3 linked regions of the Homo sapiens genome follow. The protein of the gene in region 3 interacts with the protein of the main gene of each other region in a biochemical or structural test. Each region holds a gene or a part of one and is shown on either strand. Other genes may lie near its edges. The genes, in order: SKP2, UBXN11 and RND3.

What was found.
Region 1: the proteins of RND3 (region 3) and SKP2 form a complex in vitro, tested with the Homo sapiens proteins (one study listed by BioGRID).
Region 2: the proteins of RND3 (region 3) and UBXN11 form a complex in vitro, tested with the Homo sapiens proteins (one study listed by BioGRID).

The regions. Positions count from the first base shown.
Region 1 is NC_000005.10:36,162,086-36,169,188, reverse strand, and holds part of SKP2 (S-phase kinase-associated protein 2), read right to left. Parts: intron 5,545-7,103; coding exon 5,433-5,544; intron 2,671-5,432; coding exon 2,527-2,670; intron 877-2,526; coding exon 742-876; intron 1-741. UniProt on the Homo sapiens protein: Substrate recognition component of a SCF (SKP1-CUL1-F-box protein) E3 ubiquitin-protein ligase complex which mediates the ubiquitination and subsequent proteasomal degradation of target proteins involved in cell cycle progression, signal transduction and transcription.
Region 2 is NC_000001.11:26,303,576-26,311,273, reverse strand, and holds the start of UBXN11 (UBX domain-containing protein 11), read left to right. Parts: upstream 1-4,637; 5' UTR 4,638-4,682; intron 4,683-7,698. UniProt on the Homo sapiens protein: May be involved in the reorganization of actin cytoskeleton mediated by RND1, RND2 and RND3. Promotes RHOA activation mediated by GNA12 and GNA13.
Region 3 is NC_000002.12:150,484,657-150,492,529, forward strand, and holds the start of RND3 (rho-related GTP-binding protein RhoE precursor), read right to left. Parts: upstream 3,012-7,873; 5' UTR 2,893-3,011; exon of another isoform or gene 2,800-2,892; 5' UTR 2,762-2,799; coding exon 2,612-2,761; intron 2,126-2,611; coding exon 2,038-2,125; intron 1-2,037. UniProt on the Homo sapiens protein: Binds GTP but lacks intrinsic GTPase activity and is resistant to Rho-specific GTPase-activating proteins.

The sequences.
Region 1 (7,103 bases), on a different chromosome or scaffold from region 3:
ACAGGTGTGAGCCACCACACCTGGCCCATGCTTCCCTCTTAATGGAAGAGTCCAGTCCATTCTTCTTACAGCAAGGCGTAGGGGCCCATTACAATCTGGTCCCTGACTCTCCTCACCTTGTCACTCTCCTCCCTTAGTCCTGTGCTCCAGCAACTTCCAACTACGTAAGAGTTTAGAACCACACAGGAAGTTTTACCTAGACTGGTTGCTTTGTCTTATTACCTAGAGATCTCCTACCTAGATATCTTCAATACTCAAGAGTCACTTCCTCTAACAAGGCGGCTCCTCGTGTGTTGCCACATATTCACTGAAACATTTAATAAACACACTGCATGGTAATTATCTGTCTTGCTCATAAATAGTTTACCTTCTTGCAAGAGAAAATAGACATGTCTTGCTCAATGTTTCCTCTTGCAAGAAGGTAAACTATAGCTTAACCAGCATTCACTAACAAGGTGGGAAAAGTTTTAGAGCATTCATTTTCTTCCCAAATAATACACATGCATTGTTCATCCTTGTACTTGTATCTCTAGAACCTAGCACAGGGCCTGGCATATAGTTAGCATTCAAGCTTTTGTTGCTTCAATGAGTCCTGAAAAGTTTTGCAGAAGCTAGAGCACTGCACTAGATATTTTCTGTATCCACCTGGATATGGCTAGAAGGGCACCCCAGTTATATACAGGGAAAAAAATTCATACACATAAAATCAACTGCCTTTGTGACACTCTGCCTGCCACTCACTTGACAATGGGATCCGAAAGCCGCAGGCCTTCCAGGCTTAGATTCTGCAACTTGGAACACTGAGACAGTATGCCGTGGAGGGTGGACACTTCTATAACTGAGTTCGATAGGTCCATGTGCTGTACACGAAAAGGGCTAAACACGGAGAGAAAAAAGGAGCTCCATAGGTGGCTCTCACGGGTACATCCAATTTCAAACCAGACCCCTCTTCTCCCCAAATGAGCAGCCAATCACAAACAAGACTCTAAATACATACTTCAAGCATTAACTATAGGGTCATAAAACATATTGCTACTAGTGTATTCCCATCTTCATTCATTTTAAAATGCAAGAGGATTTTTGCCAAGTACAGATGTTGCTGCCAATATAGTCCCACTTAGAAAATAACGAGTGGGCATCACAACAATGAGCTGGATGTGGGTGACAAGGAGATTAAGACCATAACGGCTCCTGGTTTCTGGCAGGGGTGAGTGGGTGAGCAGCAATAGAACAGGGAAGGTAGCGGAAGAGAAAGTTTTAAAGGGAGACCAGGCTGGGCGCAGTGGCTCACGCCTGTAATCACAACACTTTGAAAGGCTGAGTCCAGTGGATCACGATGTCAGGATATCAAGACCAGCCTGGCCAGCATGGTGAAACCCAGTCTCTACTAAAAATACAAAAAATTAGTTGGGCGTGGTGGCGCACACCTGTAGTCCCCAGGTGCTCGAGAGGCTGAGGCAGAATTGCTTGAACCTGGCAGGCAGAGGTTGCAATGAGCCGAGATCACGCCACTGCACTCCAGCCTGGGTGACACAGCAAGACTCCGTCTCAAAAAACAAAAACAATAAAAAAAAAGGGAGGCCAAATTTGAGTTATGCTAATATTGAAGTCCTTGTAAGAAATTCAGGTACAGACGTTTTTAGGTAATTAGAAATTTGGGAATTTGAAAGGGAGGGCCAAGCTATAGATGAGGAACTGAGAGTCCTGGGCATAAATGTGGGTGTAGAGGACACAGCTTGTCCAGGGACAGCATTTGGATTTGAAAAAGGTGGCAGCCAGGAACCGACCCTGGAGTGAACAGAGGAAATCACATATGTGAAGGAGACTGAGAAGGAACAGCCACAGGAGGAACAGGATAAAAAGCAGTGGGAGAGGCGGTCCTGACTACGGAAAGAAGGGAAAAAGTACTGGAGTCAGGAGACATGTTTTATCTTTAGCTTTGTTGTCTTCAGCTTGTTTTTCTGTTCAGTACCTAGTTATTCTACTATGTGATAGCAGTAACCTCAGTATTGCAAAATTATCAGAACAGAAAATTCTTTTTCAAAATATTCTACAAAACAAACAAAAAGAGGGCATTTTTTTCAGGTTCCAAATTTCTCCAAGACAAAAATCATAAACCCCAAGCTACAAACATGAAAAGACTCCTCACTTTTTTTTATTTATCAGAAATGGGCATTGGGGAAGTAACTGGGCACCCTTGCATCTGCCAGTGAGTGCTTTACTTGTGCCTGCCTTGTGGGACTCACAGTCCCCCTATCAGCTGAGGACTTGAGAAGACAAATGTGCCTCTTTCACCCTGGGAAGAGACTAACAGTAAACTTGAGTGAAATGGGAACAGTGTCATTGAAATCTATGCTAGGTTTTAGCACAAAGGCCCCATAGCAAAGTATGGAATTAACATCCCACACTGCACAGATAACCTACCATAGGCTTTAAGGCTGAAGAAAGAAAAAAAAAAAAAAAGCTTTGATCTGTTTCTACCTCGAAATTTAGAAATAGTCTTTTCCAGGGATTTTTCATCTTTACCTGAAATGTTCAGCCAATGGTTGGTCCATAAATGATCGTGGGCAGCGGAAGGCAATCACCCCTTGAGACAGCAACCGACCAGTCACATCCGGGTGCAGATTTTTACCTGTGAGGTCTAAGGTCTGCCATAGAGACTCATCAGACCTATAAAAGAGGAGATACTTAATTTGGCCAGTCGGTCACACTAAATGCTGGAAGCCCTCAACAACATTACTAACAGGTAGGACACTGCTGCTAAATCTCCTTGAAGCATATTCTAAAAGAACTTTTGTTTTTAAGTTGGCTATACAATTAGCTATGATATTTTTAAGGCACTAGAGAATTTTTCTTGATTTCACCAGGGATAAGCTTCCATCTTTCTCTTTCTATATACTTCCAATTTAGATGGTTCAATGTGAACATTAGCACTGCCGTGATCTAGAACCAGAGAATCATATTCCAGCATTCAAGTTGACAAATTTAAAAAATGATTGCTCAAATCAATTAATTATTATATTACTAGGCAAATAGGATCCTCTAAGAAGTTTTAAATCTATTTGACACTTTTGTCAAGCAATTATGATTACTGTAGCAACATGGAAAATTACTAAAGGAACGAAAGTTAGCATTATTTTATTATGAAATAAGGCTGTCATAGATATTCAATAGCAACAGTCATGGTTCAGCTGTGCCTTATAATATATTTGAAGCTTAAAACATACACGTGTATATGTATGTGTACATATGTGTGTGTATGAACTAATGTGAAATAAGGGAAAAATACAACGGATTATAGATGGTGTTTCTAAAACAAAAGGGATGTTCTAAAAACGTACTGAATAGCACAGTAAGAGGGTTTTAATATCCATAGTTTAATTCAATTTAAAAAAAGAAAATGTGAAATATAAGCACATGAAGGAACATTTTAAATGCTTAGGTGTACTAGAATTTTCTTTTTTAATAGTGCTTGAAATAAGTGGACCACTGGCCAGAGTTATGAAATAACTTCATCATAAAAAAATTGTCAGTGTGATTTGTGTGACAAATCTATCATTAAAAAGGTGGACTGTAGATAAGATATCCTTAAGAGAGTGGCACACTTTTGTATCTTTCTTGCCCAGACAGAAATCCATTTTGGCCTCCAAGGTATTGGTATTGACACCAGATCAGCACTGCTCTGGTTGTCTTGAATCTCATGCTTGATGTTTCCTCTTGCAAGAAGGCAAACTATAGCTTAACCAGCATTCAATAACAACAACCTGGGAGAAGTTTTGGAACAATTCATTTTCTTTCCAAATAATATACATTTTTTAGGAAGATGAACACCTCACAGAAAAATGAATTTGGGAGCTACCTGAACCCTAAGCCAAGCATAACTAGATATGGTATGATGGTTAAGACCGTGGAGTTAGCCAAACTTTAGATTCCTGCCTTTCCACTTATCTCTCAACCTACTATTCCTGACCCTGCAGTTTCCTCACCTCTGAAGCTGAGATGACACAAACACCATCACTTAAAATCATATGGAGGATTAAATTGCAAACACTGCACCTGTCACAAAGCAAGTGCTTAATAAATGTCAGTAATTACTTTTATGACAACTGAGATGAAGTTTAACAGACTCTAAGGGAGATGTAGGTCAAAGAATACAAAGCCACAGATATGCAGGATGAACACATCCCAAGATATAGTATACAACAGGAGAACTAGAGTCGATAATACTGTATTGTAGTCAGAATGTTTGCTAAAAGAGTAAATTTTAGGTGCTTTTGCCACAAAAAATAGGTAACTATGTGAGATAATGAATATGTTAATGATAGCAGCCATTTCACATACTTATAACAAAATATCATGCTGTATACCTTAAATATATACAATAAAATTTTAAAATGGGATTAACAGACTCTGCAAGAAGAGGATAAATGCATAGCTGGCAGAAAAAGAAAACCAAAGTGGGGTTGAGTGCGGTGAGGGTAAGTGAAACTTGCCTGCCACTTGCACCAGCATTCCAGGTGTGCAACCCTCTCTGCGGCTCTTCTAAGCAAACAACCCACACCTGTAAATAGCAGCACGCCCTTGAAGGCAAGAGGCTCCTGCTATCTCACACAGGGAGTTCTAAGTATGTGGAGGGAGAAGCCAGACGGATGGCCTTTAAACACAAAGCAAAGAATGACCAGGAGGTAGGATAGGGATGAGAAGGCATGAAGATAGTAAAAAGTTCCAGTTGATAAACATAGCCTTTTTCTTGCTCCAGGCCTGTTATTGCCTTTCCAGCTCACCAAGTCTTTCCACATGCAACTCACCTTCCACACTTGAAAAGTGTTGCCAAAAAAAGAGCACAACCCCACCAATGGCTACTCTGTGTGGAACATGTCTGTGAGTCAGGCATTACACCAGCATCTTCACATTTCATCCTCATAACCAGTGGTTTCCTCCTCATAACCATTATCCCCATTTACATATGGGGAGACTGAGGCTCAGCAGTGTCAACTAACTCACTCAGGTCATGCAGAGCGTAAGCAGCAGAGGCTGGGTGTGCACTCGGGTCTAACACCAAGCCTGTGTTCCCTCTCCCTATTGTGCTCACTGCTCAGCCCAGCGGCGTGAGGAACCGCTGTCTGCATGCACCTCTGTAACTCTCTCCGCACTTAAAGCACACCGCCTGGCCTACAGTCAGCATCCCATAAACACATGCTGCACTGAATACAGGGCAAAGAGGTTTCCAGACATTGGTAAGTTTATCCCTCCCAGGAAATTCCTCTTCCACTGTGAAATGAGGACACTGATTAATAAAAATATGAAGATACCTAGTTTGCTTTGCGCTGCTCTATTTTTCTTGGTTTTTAGTTTCATCAGACCAAAACGAATAAATAACCTTCCTCTCCTCTTCCTCCCCTACGTTTGCCAAAGGGGTGAAAAATACTTACGCTAGGCGATACCACCTCTTACAAACACCAGAGACCTTTAGCAGCTCAGGGAGGCACAGACAGGAAAAGATTCCCAAGAGCAGCTCATCCGGAAGGGAGTCCCATGAAACACCTTTGGAGGGAAAACAAGTGTTTGCCATCACCATTCTTTCACCCTATCAAGTCTACTGAGTCTTTTCAAACACATAAAGAATATACAACATTTAGCTTAAATGAGGAATTTAGCACAAATTAAATTACTCATCCTCACAATTATTTTTGTTTGAAAAATCATTTCTGTTGAACAGAAAAATAATTGTGGTGATGAGTAATTTAATTCGTGTTAAATTCCCCATTCCATCATCTATGTACCCTGAAGTGACCACCACACTCTCTCAGCAAATCAAAAAGAGAAACCCAGAACACTTTTCCTATTCTTCCCTTCAGCTCTAGCCAGCCAATCGGAGGCTGTGGCATGAAGAGTGGTACAGAGCAAGTCCCACCCTCTCAAATGTCATTCAATGACATTGTCAATTCATTGACATCAATAAGATATTGTGGTGCTTCTGGGTGCAAAGGAAGGCCTTGTTTCTCTCTGATGTGGACTCAGTAGTGACCTTATTTAAAAGGCAAATAAATCTTCTTCCCTTTCTGCTATGGTTGGCTGTGTCCCCACCCAAATCTCATCTTGAATTGTAGTTCCCATAATCCCCATGTGTTGCGGGAGGGACCCAGTGGGAGGTAATCAAATCATGGGGACGGTTACCTGGTGATAACCGCCCCTGTAATTTGATGCTGTTCTGGTGATAAGTGAGTTCCCACAAGATCTTATGGTTTTACAAGTGGCTTCCCCGACCCCTTTGCTCTGCACTTGATGCCGCCATGTGGAGAAGGACGTTTGCTTCCCCTTCCACCAAGCTTGTACGTTTCCTGAGGCCTCCCCAGCCAGGCTGAACTGTGAGTCAATTAAACCTCTTTCCTTTATGAATTACCCAGTCTTGGGTATGTCTTTATTAACAACATGAGAACAGACTAATATGCTTTCTTTCAGGTTTACAAAAGGCACAGTTTACCTAAAAGAGCAATACAAAAGGGTATTGTCATTTCTTAATTCAACAAATATTTACTGAGCTCCTACTATGGTGCCAGGTATCATTTTAGGTGTTGGGAAGGAGTAGTAAATCAGACCCAAAACACTACCTTCGTGGGACTTCATTCCAGTAATGCGGAACAGATAATCACACATCAAAAAATAAGTACATTATATGATATAGTAAAATTGATCTGTGCTGTGCAGAAAAATTAAACAGGGCAAGGGAGAGAACAGAGAGTTCAGAGCAGATGTTATTAAGTTTGAACATGGTGGTCAGGGAAGGCCATACTGAGATGACGATCACTAAGCAAAGGCTTGAACAAAGTGAGGGAGTGAGCCCTGTGAGTATCTGGTGTACGTGTTCTAGATCCAAGGAACAGCATGTGTGTTTGAGGCATAGCAAGGAGGCCAGTGTAGAGCGCAGAGGTAGGTGGGTAGAAAAATCAGAGAGCAGCCAGGTCATGCAGGCTTCCTAGGTCATGATAAAGCCTTTGGCTTTGACGCTGAATTCTATGAGGCACCACTAGAAGATTCTGAGCACAGGAATGACAGGCCCTCACGTAAGTTCAAAAAGGATCACTCTGGCTGCTGTGTTTAGA
Region 2 (7,698 bases), on a different chromosome or scaffold from region 3:
GCAGCTACTCGGGAGGCTGAGGCAGAGAATCGCTTGAACCTGGGAGCTGGAGTTTGCAGTGAGCTGAGATCACGTCACTGCACTCCAGCCTGGAAAACAGAGTGAGATTCTGTCTCAAAAAAAAAAAAAAAAAGAATAGAGACTTCCAGAACCATCTAGCCCCAGAGCTGGGGTCTACTTCCTCACCCTGCAGGTGGGAAACAGGTCCAGAAAGAGCCTTGTTCAAGACCTCCCTCCTCCCAGGCCAGGGCCTTTGCACCATCATCAGACTGAATATCCACCACTGGATGCGATCAAGATGAGGCTGGGCGACCCCATCTCAGAAGTCCAGAGGGAATCCTTCCAGCTTGGAAGTGGTCGGATGGGTCTCCAAGGCCCTCACAACACTCAAGTCTTGTGAGCCTGGAGACCTCAGAGATTTCCAGACCTTCTAAGATGTGGGAAGAGAAATATAGGTTAAAAAAAAAAAATCAGATGAGCTTAGACTCTTGGTTTCTTTTATAATTTTGTTTTTGAAAAAACACCTTTTTTTTTTTTTTTTTTTTTAAGACAGAGTCTGGCACTGTCGCCCAGGCTGGAGTGCAGTGGCGCAATCTTGGCTCACTGCAACCTCAGCCTCCCAGGTTCAAGCAATTCTCCTGCCTTAGCCTCCCGAGTAGCTGGGATTACAGGCGACCGCCACCATGCCCTGCTAATTTTTGTATTTCTTTCTTTTCTTTCTTTCTTTTTTTTTTTGAGATGGAGTCTTGCTCTTGTTGCCCAGGCTGGAGTGCAGTGATGCGACCTTGGCTCACTGTAACCTCCGACTGCTGGGTTCAAGTGATTCTCCTGCTTTAGCCTCCAAAGTAGCTGGGATTATAGGCGCATGCCACCACACCTGGCTGATTTTTGTATTTTTAGTAGAGATGGGGTTTCACCATGTTGGCCAGGCTGGTCTCAAACTCCTGACCTTAGGTGATCCACCCACCTCAGCCTCCCAAAGTGCTGGGATTACAGGCATGAGCCACTGCTCCTGGCCTAGTTTTTGTATTTTTTAGTAGAGACAGGGTTTCGTCATGTTGGCCAGGCTGGTCTCGAACTCCTGATCTCAGGTGATTCACCCACCTCGGCCTCCCAAAATGTTGGGATTACAGGTGTGAACCACTGTGCCCAGCCAAAAACTCCTCCTTTTTGGGCCGGGCACAGTGGCAAGAGGGTATAGTCTCTGCTACTTGGTAGGCTGAGAGGCCGAGACTGGAGGATCCCTTGAGCTCAGGAGTTCAAATCCAACCTGGGCAACATAGACAGAGTCTGTCTCTAAAAATAAATAAATGAGCAAAGAAAGAAAAGAAGAACACCTTTTCAGGAGCAATAATGCAACAACATTATAGGAATTTTTAAAATAGTGTATATATTTTTTTCAGCTGTTGTCCCCACTCATGCTGGGGCCGGTGCCTCATTATGGAAAATTTAATTTGTACAATAATCCTAGGAGGTAGATTCTATTAGTATCTCTACTTTACATTTGTAGACACTGAGACTCTGACAAGTGAAGTATCTTGAGCAGGAACAGCCAGCTATTAAACGACAGAGCCCAGCCTCATAGAGTTGTTAAGTTATGCTGGTCCACAGTACAATGTATCCCCAACAAATGATGGCTCTTATTATTTTCCAAGTTTCTCCAGTGAAATTGTATATTTTTATAATAAGGCTCTGACTTTCCCAATAAATGTTATTTTTTTAAAAAAAATCAAACCAGAAGGGCACGGTGGCTCACACCTGTAATCCCAGCACTTTGGGAGGCTGAGGCGGGTAGATCATGAGGTCAGGAGATAGAGACCATCCTGGCCAGCATGGTGAAACCCCATCTCTACTAAAAATACAAAAATTAGCTGGGGGTGGTGGCACTTGCCTGTAATCCCAGCTACTCAGAGGCTGAGGCAGGAGAATTGCTCGAACCAGAGAGTTGGAGATTGCAGTGAGCTGAGATCACACCACTGCACTCCAGCCTGGCGACAGAGTGAGACTCTGTCTCAAAAAAAAAAAAAATCAATTGACTCGGGACAGGGCGCAGTGGCTCACGCCTGTAATCCCAGCACTTTGGGAGGCTGAGGTGGGCGGATCACAAGGTCAGGAGACGGAGACCACACTGGCCAACATCGTGAAACCCCGTCTCTACTAAAAATACAAAAAAATTAGCTGGGCATGGTGGCGTGTGCCTGTAGTCCCAGCTACTTGGGAGGCTGAGGCTGGAGAATCGCTTGAATCTGGGAGGTGGAGGTTGTGGCGAGCCACGATCGTGCCACTGCACTCCAGCCTGGTGACAGAGCAAGACTCAAAAAAAAAAAAAAAAAAAAAATCAAACGACTGGCCTGCCAGGTTAGAGGGCTCCCATTTTCCTCCCAGGAAATAGATGTTTACTGAGTGTCTGCCTGCTGCGGAATCTACAGCCAGGCCCTGGGTGGGAAGAAGGGATGGGGTAAATCCTGGTGCCTGGGTAAATGCCACTCACGATCTGGTTCTTGCTGAGGCAGGAATCAGAGGGCAGACCACAGCAGGGCTCATGAGACCAGAGCTCCTGCTTCCCACGCTTGCTTATCTCCATGAGCAAGGTGACAGTATGAAGTTGCTACTCACCCTGACCATGGGTCCAACCTCAAAAAACACTTGGCCCCGACATGATCTCAGTCTTTCTCATCTTCATATACCTAAAACCTCAGAAAACTTTCTGGGAGCAGCTCAGCAACAAGAGAGCTCTTCCTATGTCCACTCTCCAGTCACACTTTCCGCCCAGACTCCTCCCTTGGCAGTAGGTCTGTACCACCTTCTTCCTTGGCTTATCTATGCCTGCCTTGTTTACCAGAGTGAAAGTTTCTAGGAAGAGCGTGGACTCTTGAGGCTGACCGTTCTGGGTTTGAATCCACTTCTGCTTCCTGCCTTTATAATCTTATGCAAGCCGCTGTACTACCCTGAGCTTGTTTTCTCATCTGTTTTTTTCTTTTTTCTTTTCTTTTCTTTTTTTTTTTTTTGACAGAGTTTCACTCTTGTTGCCCAGGCTGGAGTGCAATGGTGCGATCTCAGCTCACCGCAACCTCCGCCTCCCAGGTTCAAGCGATTCTCCTGCCTCAGCCTTCCTGAGTAGCTGGGATTACAGGCATGCGCCATCATGCCCGGCTGATTTTGTATTTTTAGTAGAGACGGGGTTTCTCCATGTTGGTCAGGCTGGTCTCGAACTCCCGACTTCAGATGATCCGCCTGCCTCAGCCTCCCAAAATGCTGGGATTACAGGCGTGAACCACCACGCCCGGCCCTCATCTGTAAATTTCATGTTACCATCTGGTACTTGGCACTCAGTAGTAGTAGCTCTCTTTAGCTTCCAATTTGCATATAAAGAATGCTGTCCACTTTGGGAGGCAGAGATGGGCGGATGGCTTGAGCTCAGGAGTTTGAGACCAGGCTGGGCAACATGGCAAGACCCCGTCTCTACAAGAAAATACAAAAACTAGCTGGGCGTTGTTGTGCACACCTGTAGTCCCAGCTACACTGGTGGCTGTGATGGGAGGATAGCTTGAGCCTGGGAGGCGGATGTTGCAGTGAGCAGAGCCTACCCTTCCCTGAATGTGGTAGGCTAGAAAGTCAAACGGAAAATTAAAAAAAAAAAAAAAAAAAAGCAACAGAAAAACACTCTTGGGTTGTGCAGAGAAAGGGCTTTTGAACCTGGGCACAAAGAAGTGAGTGCCTGAGATCAGAAATCATAAACTCCCAGACCATCACAGCTGAAAGGGTGAAGAGATGATGATGATGATTAACAGCAGGAAACGTTTTTGAAAAAGTGCTCTCTACAGGTGTTTCTGTTTCGGCTTTCCCCTTTAAAATCGTGTACTTTGCATTACCTTATTTAATCCTCACGGCAACCCAGTGGGGGTAGGTATTATCACTGTTTTACAGATATAAAAACTAAGGTGTATAAAGTGCCCAAGAACACACAGTAAGGAGCCAGGACTCCTAATTCCAAAGTTCGTGGTCTTAACTGCCTTTAGCTGTTTTGGTGACTGAGTCTAATCCAACACAATTTTACAGATGAGGCTCTGGGAGGGGAAATTGTCTTACCCAACTCTTAACACAAGGGAACTAGAATTTGGGCCGCCCTTCCGGGCGCCAATCTGGTCAAGGATTTGTCACAGAAACTCAGATTTAGGAAACATTTATTAAGTACTTGCATCATTGCAATCCATCCTCAAAGCAGCCTCCGTGAAGTATTACAGTACTTCGTGTTACAATACTGATCATATGGGGAAATAAGCTAAGAGGGATAATTCCTCCCAAGATCAATTTAGCAAAATAGCGGCACTGTCGGGATCACACATTCAGGTCCTGAATGTGAGGCTGCCAGCAGTTTCATTAACCTAATCCCAGGCTCCTTCCTCCCGCACCTGAGGGTAGGAACGAACCACCCCCCCCCCCCACCCCGCCCCGGACCTGGAGCCCTCTCAGAGCGGTGCATTCTGGGATTCGCCCGCGAAGAATACCGACTCTGTGGGCCAATAGAATCCGAGCACAGGCGACTGTATCCACCTTCGCTGTCTGCAGGTTGCTCAGGCCTCCCTCAAACTAGCCAATGAGAAGTGCACGGGTCCTGGTCGCCTAGGAAACCGCGTGACAACAAGATGGCGGCGCTGCGGGACGGCTAGCGGCCCTGCGTGGTGAGTCTGGCTTAAGACCTTTCTGCCCCTGGAGTCCCCACGCAGGCTGGAGCCCGAGCCCCGAGGGCCTGCGAGCTCCGCGGCTCCCACAGGAGAGGTTCAAGACCCTGCTTACCATGACTACGCGTGGAGGCGGAAGGAGGCGACACGGCCTCCAGGGCTGGGTTAGATCGTGATAGACGTCGCTCCCTGAGCGCGTCCTGGGGGCATTAGGGAGTCCTGGCAGCGGGCCGGACCGTGTCCCCGCCAGAGCTCTGGGCTCTGGGGATGACGGAGAGGCCGAGGAGGTGTGAAGAAGAATGTTGTGAGTCAAGCACAGCACTGAGTTTGGTTCCAAAGATGTAGAGGCATGGTGCAGAGATTTGCTCTCAGAGCCAGGTCTGAAGTGGGTGACAACTCTGCCTTAAGGACCTTTTGGCCTGAGGGGTAGTCACAGTCCTGCCCTTGGAAGCCCCAAAGTGAAGGAGTTAGGCGACTGTCCTCAGGGCTCCCTAATCTGAAGGAGAAAGAGATATGCCCCTGCCCTCAGGAGTCCCCCCAAACGGACAGGGAAATGCAGCCTTTGCCTTCAGGGGCCCTTGTAATCTGGGAGAAGATTAACCTGGAGACAATGTGTCGGACTGGACTGGAGTGACACTGGAAGTAGGGAAGTCAGTTGGGAGCCATGTGACAGCCCCCAGAATGGGCAGTGAGAGTCCCACTAGGACGGCCGACGGTGGCCATGGAAAGGGGCAGCTATATGTGAGAGAGTTTAGCCTGCAGGGTTTGATGTAAGAGGCAAGATGGCGTAAGAGGGAAGGAAGGAGAGAAAAAATGTGGTTGGGTGATGGGGTCCCATTAAGAAGGGGGAAGTGGGAGGAAGTGAGTTTGACGAAAATGTTGGATTTGGTTTAGGAGTTTTGTTTTTTTTTCCCATGACAGCTTTATTGAGATATAATTCACGTATTACATACTTCACTCCTTTAAAGTGTAAATTTCAATTTTTAGTATATTTTAGTATATATTCCATTTATATGAAATGTGCAGTGTGGGCAAGTCTATAGAACAGAAAGTAGATTTGTGGTTGCCTAAGGCTGCCTTGGAAAAGGGGTGGGGGCTGGAGGGTAAATTGGGGGTGACTGCCAAAGGGTACAGGGTTTGTTTAGGCTGACGAAAATGTTCTAAAATTGTGATGGTAGTACAGCTCTGTGAATATACTAAAAAGAAAATTACACTGTAAGAAGGTGAAATATGTGAATTATATCTCAAAGCTGTTTTATGAAAAAGGTTGCATACTGTATAATTCCATTTGTGTAACTTTTTTGAAGTAAGAAAATTATAGAGATGGGCCAGGTGGGGTGGCTCACGCCGGTAATCCTAGCACTTTGGGAGGCTGAGGCAGGAGAATTGCTTGAACCTGGGAGGCGGAGGTTGCAGTGAGCCGAGATTGCGCCATTGCTCTCCAGCCTGGGCGACAGAGCGAGACTCCATCTCAAAAAACAAAACAAAAAAAGTATTGAGGGGAGCTGGGTGAAGGATACAAAGGATCTTTCTGTACTATTTTCCTAATTTCCTGTGAATCTATAATAATTTTCAAATAAAAAGCTAAAATATAAGTGAAAAACAAACTGAAGGGGAAAAAAAAGAGTTAGCTGGCCAAGGGAAGGGTGCAGGTAGGAGTGGGGAGACCGTTCTGGGAGTGGGGGGATTGAGGTTGAGGCAGGGGGGATACACATGCATTTGAGGCATTGCTAGAAGTTGAGGTGGCTCAAGTGTGGGAGGCGGCAAGATGGGAGATGAGGTCAGGAGACATAAGCAGGGACCAGGTCACCTATATCAAGGAATTATGAATTTTTTTTTGAGATGGAGTCTTGCTCTGTCACCCAGGCTGGAGTGCAATGGCGCAATCTCTGCTCACTGCAACCTCCGCCTCCTGGGTTCAAGCAATTCTTCTGCCTCGGCCTCCCAAGTAGCTGGGATTACAGGTGCCTGCCACCAAGCCCGGCTAATTTTTGTATTTTTAGTAGAGATGGGGTTTTGCCACGTTGGTCAGGCTGGTCTTGAACTCCTGACCTTAGGTGATCCACCCTCCTCGGCCTCCCAAAGTGTTGGGATTATAGGTGTAAGCCACCGTGCCTGGCCAGAATTTTGAATTTTTTTCTGTGGGTGAGAAGTGCTGGGATTATAGGCATGAGCCACCGCTCCCGGCCTGCTTTATGTTTTAAGATCTCTCTGGTAGCACATGGGAACTAATGAAGGGAGCCTTGGCCATACAACCCGTGAGGCTGCCCAGACAGGGCAGGGGCTGGGGCAGGGTGGGGACAGATTTGGGAGGCTGGATGCTGGGGGTGAAGAAACTCTGGGCCTGATCCTTGAGGAGGGCTCCTTCCAAGGAAGGGGCAGGGCATGATTCTCAAACTCTGCAGTGAAGGCATTGGAGGCTGCCTCCAGGCAGCATAGATTCCCTTGCTGACTGACTTCAGAAGTAGGGTTGAGGCCAGAACCAGACATCTTCAAAGTGGAACTTCTTGGATTTGTCCTAAAAAATTTGGTCCAGGCTGGGTGCAGTGGCTCATGCCTGTAATCCCAGCACTTTGGGAGGTCGAGGGGGGCGGATCACCTGAGGTCATTTACTGAATAGAGTAGTAGCCTTCGATTATGTCCTTCAGGTGCACTCCTTTTTCCAGAAGGAAGAGGAAAGGAAAGGAAACTAACATTTACGAGTGCTTCCTATGTGGCAGCAACAGCAAAAACAACAGCAGCCCCAACTCACATTTTTCAGTGCTTCCTTTGAGCTTGGCGCTGGGCTAGACCTTCTCTGTTATCTCTGAATCTGCTCAGAACCCTGCCTGTGCCAGTACTATTACGACCCCCATTTTATACTAAAAGAAACTGAGGGTGGGTTACTCCAGTGAGTGGCAAAACCTGGCATCTTAACCTTGGTGTCACATGGACTGTGTCTTTTTTTTTTTTTTTTTTTTTGAGATGGAGTTTCGCTCTTGTTGCCCAGGTTGGTTGGAGTGCAATGGTGCAGTCT
Region 3 (7,873 bases):
CCTGCCTGTCCAGCGTAATAAAGCCAAGAAGTGTACAGCTGGGAGAGATCCTGCACATCATCTAGCTCAGTGTCCTCTTTTTACAGATGATGAAAATGAGACCCAGGGAGATAGGGGATTTGCACACAGAAATCCATGGTAACCAGGAGCTAAGATCTAAACACAGCTTTGTATCAACGACTGGTTCAGACACACTGCTCCACCCCGTGCCAAAATAATTTTTATCGTGCATTAGGTCCAAACAGGGCTGCCGGTTGGGGCAGGGAGTACTGGTGCTTATTATCGGTACCACACCAGCTGTGCCATCCAGTAGGCATAACAAATACATACCATGATATGTCTGGGAATCAGAGCCCATTAAGTACCAGGCTGTAAAATAATTCTGATAGGAACTACTGAAATAAGGAACCACTTGAATTCTGTCTACCAACACCTTCTCCAGAGTTTCGAGTCTGTGTACCATCCCCAACAGAAAACACGGCGGCAAAGTCCTGATTCTGCTGCCCTTGGAACGGCTGAGAAAGAGCCTGACTCCAGGGGGAAACAAAATCAGCCCTTCTCACTGCAGCAGTCGGAGCATCTGGCACCGACCATGAGAGGCGCTCGCTCGTGCGAGACTTCTCGCTTGCCTTTGTGCTGGGACTGCCTCTGGCGACCCTGTCAGTCTGGTTCCTTCCTCTTGCTCTCTGAACCCCCGCGTCCCTCGGGGGCTCCAGCGGTTCAAGCCCAGCGGTTCTGTGGGAAGCTCACAGAAACACCTCCACGAGGCCACTCCCCGCTGGGCGCGGCTCCACCTCGGGGCCTCCCCGCCTAACAGCAAACCTGCTTGTTGGCACTTGCGCGTTCCTCCTCGCCAGTTTCACCCGGATTTGGCTCGGTCCGCCAGCAACCCAGCTCCTTGCTAAATTCCCAGCCCTAAGCGCAGGGGCCTTTACCCAGCCTTCCCAGTGGGTCCTGCTTTTCCATAGCCGACACCCTTCTTGGAAACAAACTCGCTAGACACCGCTGGTTAGGGCGGCGGGTGCCTATGTCCCAGCCCAAGACCTCAGATGGTGCCCCCCTGCCACTCCCCGGCCTTTGACCTGGCCTAAACCCCTAACTCAGCCGGGGGGCCGGATGCCTTCCCACCGGGAGGGTACCTAGCCCTCCCTACCACCGCGCGCCAGGTAGGTGGGTGGGCGCATGGGAAAGCAATAACCCGGCCTTGAACCTCAGACCCATGAATATAACCCACCGCGGCGCCAATAATTCAAGTAGACTGGAAGGTCAAAGGCGAATAGTGTTGCCCGCGGCCTTGGAGGCAAGCCGAGTGGGGGATGCAATAGAGGTCAGGAGGGGCTGGTGTGGTGAAGGGGAAACGGACGTGATCACTGGGATGGAGTGGGGGAAAAAGGGAAAAGCTCGGTACAGGTGGGCACCGAGGCACCGCGGGCGGCCGGCAGCGCGAAGAGGAGGTTCAGCTGCTGCCCGGCCCCTGCGCCACCAGCGCATTCCTGGGTGTAGGCGTCACGGGCGCCGCGGCTGCCTGCGCTCAGTTTCTTTCCCTCAACAGCGGCAATTGCACGTAACCGCGTCGCCTCTGGGATTTTCTCCCGCCTCCCATCACCCCCGCGGCGCTCCCCGCCTCCCCGCCAACCAGCAGGTTAGATCTAGGAGGGGCGCCCGCCTTGAGCCGGGTGGTTCCGCCGAGGCGCACGCAGCGCCCATGCAACACCCCACAGTATCGGGCCACCTCGGCCGACCCAAGGCGACTTGACCACGACTCCGCGGGCGGACTGCGCCTGGCCACTAGTGGCTCCAACCGCGGGGTCACCCTGCGGGCACACAGCGCTCTCCTCTCCCCACTGCTATCTCCTCGTCCACGCTGTCGTCTGCCGCCCCCACCCAGAAGGGATACAATTTTCGCCCAACAGGGACCGTGGGAATCCCTTGGGAGGGGCGCAGACGGCTTGTAGCGCGCGGTTTCCCGAGACCCGCCGCGCATCCCCCAGCGACTGGAAACCCGCCCCAAGCGCCACGCGGTCCTCCCACTCTTACCCGAAGTGTCCCACAGGCTCAACTCTATTCTTTGTGTGTCGATTTCAAAACTGGCCGTGTAATTCTCAAACACTGTAGGAACGTAATTCTGGATAGACAAAATGGGCAAAAGAGGAAGGAAAGAGGGCAAAGAGGTTACGTTTAAACGCACGACACCCATTGAACACCCTTCCCCTCCCCGCTCCCCAGTTAAGAAAGAAAACCTTCACACATCAGACCACACACTAAGCACATGGACCCTTTCCGAAACCCCTGTCCTACTCCCCACTCACCCCACCCGGCTCTCACAGATCTGCTGACCCGAATCTCCCAACCCCAGGTTATGCACACAGGAACGAACAAGTTTCAGGAGCTAACCAGCCCATGTGCAGGCGCGTCCCAACCCTAAAAGCTTCCAGCGCACTTTCCCTTTCCCCGCAGTCTAATCAGGGGAAAGTAGTAAGGACCGAGAAAGACTTTTTTTTTTCTTTTTTTTTTTTTTTAAGGGAAAACGGATGAAAGCGGGGAGGCCCACCTCGGGACTGGGATCCCACTGGCCGACCCCCTCGTGGAAGCCGCGGCCGGCCACACTCACCTCGGGGAAGCAGTCCTTGGCGAAGACATGGAGCAGCGCAGTTTTTCCACACTGACTGTCTCCCACCACAACTATCTTGCATTTCACGTTCTGATTAGGATCCATGATAGATTTGCTGGATAATTTCTGGCTGGCTCTTCTCTCCTTCATTGATGTTGCCTTATTTTCTCTTGGAACAGGAATTTTCTCTTAAGAAGAAAAAAAAAAATATATATATATATATATATTTCTCTCTTTATAAAAAGCAGATATAAAAATAAATCACAAGGCTGATGGGCAACCTCTGAAACGCGGCGCAGACGAGGAGGAGAGCGAGAGGAGCAGGCTGGTTACTCCCCTCCAACAAGTTTTAAGCCTGACTCCTCACCGCGCCTCCCAAGTCCAATTCCGAGCCGACTGCTTTGTTTCACGCTCTCTGCGCGGCTTTATACGCCCGGCCTTCCAATCCTCTTCTTTCTCAATGAGAGGAGGAAACTGATCTGCCTCCTCCCCTTTTATGGAGCCTGGGAGCGAGCGCTGTTGGCGTTGCATGCCGAAAATGTAAGCAGTGCGCCCTCTAGGGTGCCCATTCGGGATCTATTTTAGACCAAGGCTCTTAGACAACATGAAGATCCCAAAGATGCTTTGCTGACAAGTCCACAGGGCAAGGTGGGAAACTGGTATCTGTGCATACTGATTTGAACTACAATCCCTTTAAATATAGTTTAATAGGGGCTTATCTGTAGAAGCCTCATGAGCATTTATGAAAACAAAAACATTTCCCACCCAAGTTAAAGGACAGTGATAAAACATAGGAAGCAAATCTTGGGTGGAGAATAGTTGAGTGGTTCTATTTTTTTTTTTAATGGTTTGTATCAGGTACATAGGCCATGGACCAATAGATCAGCCTCTTTATTCCAGATGCAAGAACAGGCTTGCCTGGGTCACGGTAGTAGACTGGCTTCTGAAACCTGTCAGTTTCAGTCGTACAAGTGGAGGCAGAAAGGTTTCGAGGGGTGGGTACAGGAGGTGGGAGGGGAGAAGAAAGAGAAGTGGAAGATGCCCATGACTGAGTGACAAAGGCCATTGGAAACTCAACCCTACTGCGCTAGGGACCCAAACACTTGTCAGCTTAGTTGCACCTCCCCACATTTGCAGTGAGGGGACTGGTGGGGGGGCAGATTTTGATACTATTAATTCTTTATCTATAGCCTCCATCTTCCCGGAATCAAAGCACCCTAGACTGGACTCAGAAGGCACAAACATCTTTAGCTGAAAAATGCAGATACAACCCTCCACCCTCTCTTCTGTCCTCCTCCACATCCATCTCCCTAGCCCTCCAACTCTTCCCCGCAAGCAAAAATCTTAGAAAGGACCAGAATAGCCCGCACATTTGTTCTTTTTCTATGAGAAGTCTTTCTTTTTCTCATCTTCAGCTCCTGCACCCTAAATGCTCAGGAGGTTTCAATTGTTACAATGTAGTAGCACACTGGCCAAAACCAGCTTATATGGTCCCCTGTGGAGACTCCTAGGCTTGTAAATGAGAAGATAAGGTGAAAACAAACAAATCAGAAAGTTTAACATGGGAAGTGAAAAGGCACAATGAAGAGTTGTCAAAAGCACTGATGTAAGTAGTGGACTGGTAGGGCCCCTGAAGCCTAGGGGATCCAGGAATGATGTCCTATTTGGGGCTGAGAAAATTGGAGCCCCCTCAAAGATCATTGACTCAGACTCCATCGGTGGGTCTGTGTTTACACAAGGGGAGGGTTGACCCACAGAGAAGCGGGTTGCTGGCCCTGCTAGGGTTCCTAGAGCAGCCTTTGCCAATGTTTGTTCTTCTGAGCTTTAGTTCCCTCCTGACACAAAGGGTGCCATGGCCCAATTAGTGAGGGCGACACTGTACCCACATCACTCACTGAAGATTCGCCAAGCACACTAATGTTACAAACATTTAAAAATCCCAGAGAAAAGCAGACTATTTAACATAGTTTAACCTAGCATTTCCCAAAACTACTTAACACAGGAAACATTAATCAAATTATTCACGTTTGTTTACTTGTTTAAAGAGCAATGGGCATAGTAGTTGGGGCAGGAGATCACAAAGAGGTGTATTTGGGTCCCCAACTTCACATTTTCTGTATGACTTTGGATGGATTATTTAGCCTCTCTGAGCCTCAATTTCATCATCTGTAAAATAGGAGTCATAATGGTAATTATGAGGAAATGCAAGTGACGTTTGCAGAATGGTTTCTGGCACAATAAAGAGTCCTTGACCTGTGTTATAGTTTGCATGTAAAATCTTATTTGCACTTTTCAGAACTGTTGAATGTGTCTTGAGAAATTCTGGCTTCATTGGTGGACTCACTAATTGGAGCTGTGTCCATCCTATCTTTTGTCTTATTTTTAACTTAATGAAATTACCCCTTTCCAGAGATATGATTTGACCTCCCATATTTCAGAATTGATGTAGTTTATATGGTTAAATCACTTTAACAGAAATAATTAAGAATGTTTATGAATTGGCTGATCAATGAATAGGGTAACCACATAATTTATCATCTAAGCTGGGATTTGAGAGCAAAAGGGGCACTACCAATGATTGTGGCTGGACAACAGAGGTAAACAGGGTCTATCCCAGGCAAAACAAGATGCATAATCACTTCACCATAGAATCATCTGGAATCATAGTGGATGACTATTTTTGGAAATCAGGTGACCTGAATTTCCAGGAATCTGCCAGTTGCTGAGCAAAATTTAATGGATGTATAACAGAGTAGAAAAACCAACTGCCTGAAGTCACCAGGATTTGAATCCCTCTAGGGTAAACATTCTTCCTTTTCCTTTTTAAAATCTCTAGTGTTCAGTGTGAAGTGGATACTTAATATATTTTAAAATTCATCTAACATTTAGTTTAACAATTACTTACTCAGCATCTGCTGTAAACCAGGCACTGTTCTAGGAACTGCAGATAGAGCAGTAAACAAGACAGATCTGTTTGCTACTCTCAAAAAGCATACATTCCAGGCAGGAGATAGACAGTAAATAAAGAAGTAAGATCACCCCATGTTTTTCTTCATAGAAAACATGGCACGGCATTATTAAAGCATAGTAAGGTAGGGATCAGACCCATGGTCCAGCAGAAGGATGCTCACAGACAGTGGAAAGGTTACAGGCTGGAGGGAAAGGGCTTGGTAGGTTTGAGGAATAGAAGAAAGGCCAGAATGACTAGGGCCTGCTGAAGGAGGGAGAGTGTAGGTCGGGGAGCAAAAGGAAGCAGGCAGGGGCTGAATAATTGGCTGTAGAATTTGGATTTCATTCTCAGGGTAATGTGAAGTCAGTCATGGCAGGACTTGGAACAGGGTAGCAGCATGATTACATGAATGAATGAATGAATGAATGAATGAATGACTCCAGTTCTTCGTCTGCACTGTCACTCACTAGCTGTGAAACCTTGATGAAACTGCTCATCTTCAATGAGAATATGGGATCCAAGTATACCTAAATTCCTGGAAAAGACTAAAATTTTAGACTGCAATAAAAGGTTTTCCCCTAAGAAACACGTTCATTTAGAAAATGTGACGCCTTACCTGGGAGGATCGTATATTACCTAGCGTGCTTCCTTTTGTGATTCTTGCTTGTCTTCCTATTACTCTCTCCTTTTTCTCATTTATCCTTAAGACCAAGAGAACAGAAAACCAATAGTAAATATTTCTCTATGATTTAGTTAATAGAACACATTCAGGTGCCCTAAAAGGTTTGAGTTCAAAAATTATTTTCTTTGTGGCTAACCCTTTACTTACCAGAGGAAATCTCCCCTCCCATAGAAACTACATACCCTTTGACACAAAAAGGGCTGATTCCAGGCCTGGAGAGAGAACCAATTGAGAAAGAGTACCCATCTACTTCCCATCTAGGGATAGCACAAGACTGATAAACAATTGTTTCTGAGATTTGAGTGACTACAAGTCAGGGACTTGGGTTTTAGTCCAGGCTAAACCAATGAACTATCTGTCCTTGGGCGAACACTGACTAAATTCTTTTCCGCAGTTTCATCCTTATGTGAGGATGATAACATCTGCCTCCTTTAAGCTGCACAATAGCACTGCTTAAAAAATCACGTGCCCTGCACTTTCCAAAATTATTCTTTAGAAACACACTAAAGGCACCCCCCTTTTCATGTTCAGTGTATTTATGGAGATCTTGGCCCACAGTGGAATATTGTAAGGCATAATCCCAATAGTTTATTCACAGTCACCTGCCTCTCTTCAGACTCCAGCAGAAGTGTTTGAAGGAGCAAGTGCATAATAAGGAGGAAGCACAGGTTTCTTATAGGCATCATCAATGGAGCAGAGAGATGGCTGACATCAAAGCAAGAAAACGTGCAGGATGCCTTCATAGATGTTATGTCACAAAATATGGATATGAGTCATGGGCATTCTCTTTGAGAATTTAATAAGATGACAGATATTAAATAGTTTCAAATATAGGCATTTCAATACAAAATTAAAGACAAGCGTGTAAACTTGTAAACTGCTCTGTACTGAAAGGTGGCAATTTCACAATTGTCTCTTTTTGGGGTGGTCAGAAGAGGGTGATCACTCAGTCTTATAAAACATCAACAAAATAGAAGGCATTTTTTTTTGAAGTGAGGAATTGAGGAAAGAACATTCATACAATTTAATGGATTGAACTGGTTATTTAGGAAGAATCTGTTTTCTTGGAAGAGAATCTTTTCCTTTATTTTCTCTTAAAATTATGCCTATTTGCCCTCTCAAGGACACTGCACTAAGTTGTCTAGGCTGTGTGGTAAGAGCACTCCAGTCTGGGTTGAAACATTCAGCCTTGTTTTTTCTCATGAATGCTAACTGCGAATATGATTTAACTGCTGCTGTATTGACTTAGTCCTCACTCTTTAGCCAAGAGGAAATGACACAACTTTGTGAGTACTGAATAATAAGTCATTTTGAAATTGATCATCCCTTTCTCTGTTTATAGTTAATTTAACAAATAGTCCGTTGCATTCTTTAGAAACCCAGACCACATGATTTTGGTTCTGTGTATTATAGGGCACAAATAACCCTTTCCACCTGCCTCTTCAAATTTCAGATCTTTGATGCCTGATGCCATTTGTTTATACTTCAGTATTTCCTAAGTAAAGAAAACAAACAAAAATATAAAACTATCAGACCCATTGATTACTTTATCTACTAAACACCCAATTATACTTTATGTCAATTTGTCAGTGAGATATGAAAAATATTTAAGGAATTGCCCTAAGAAAAC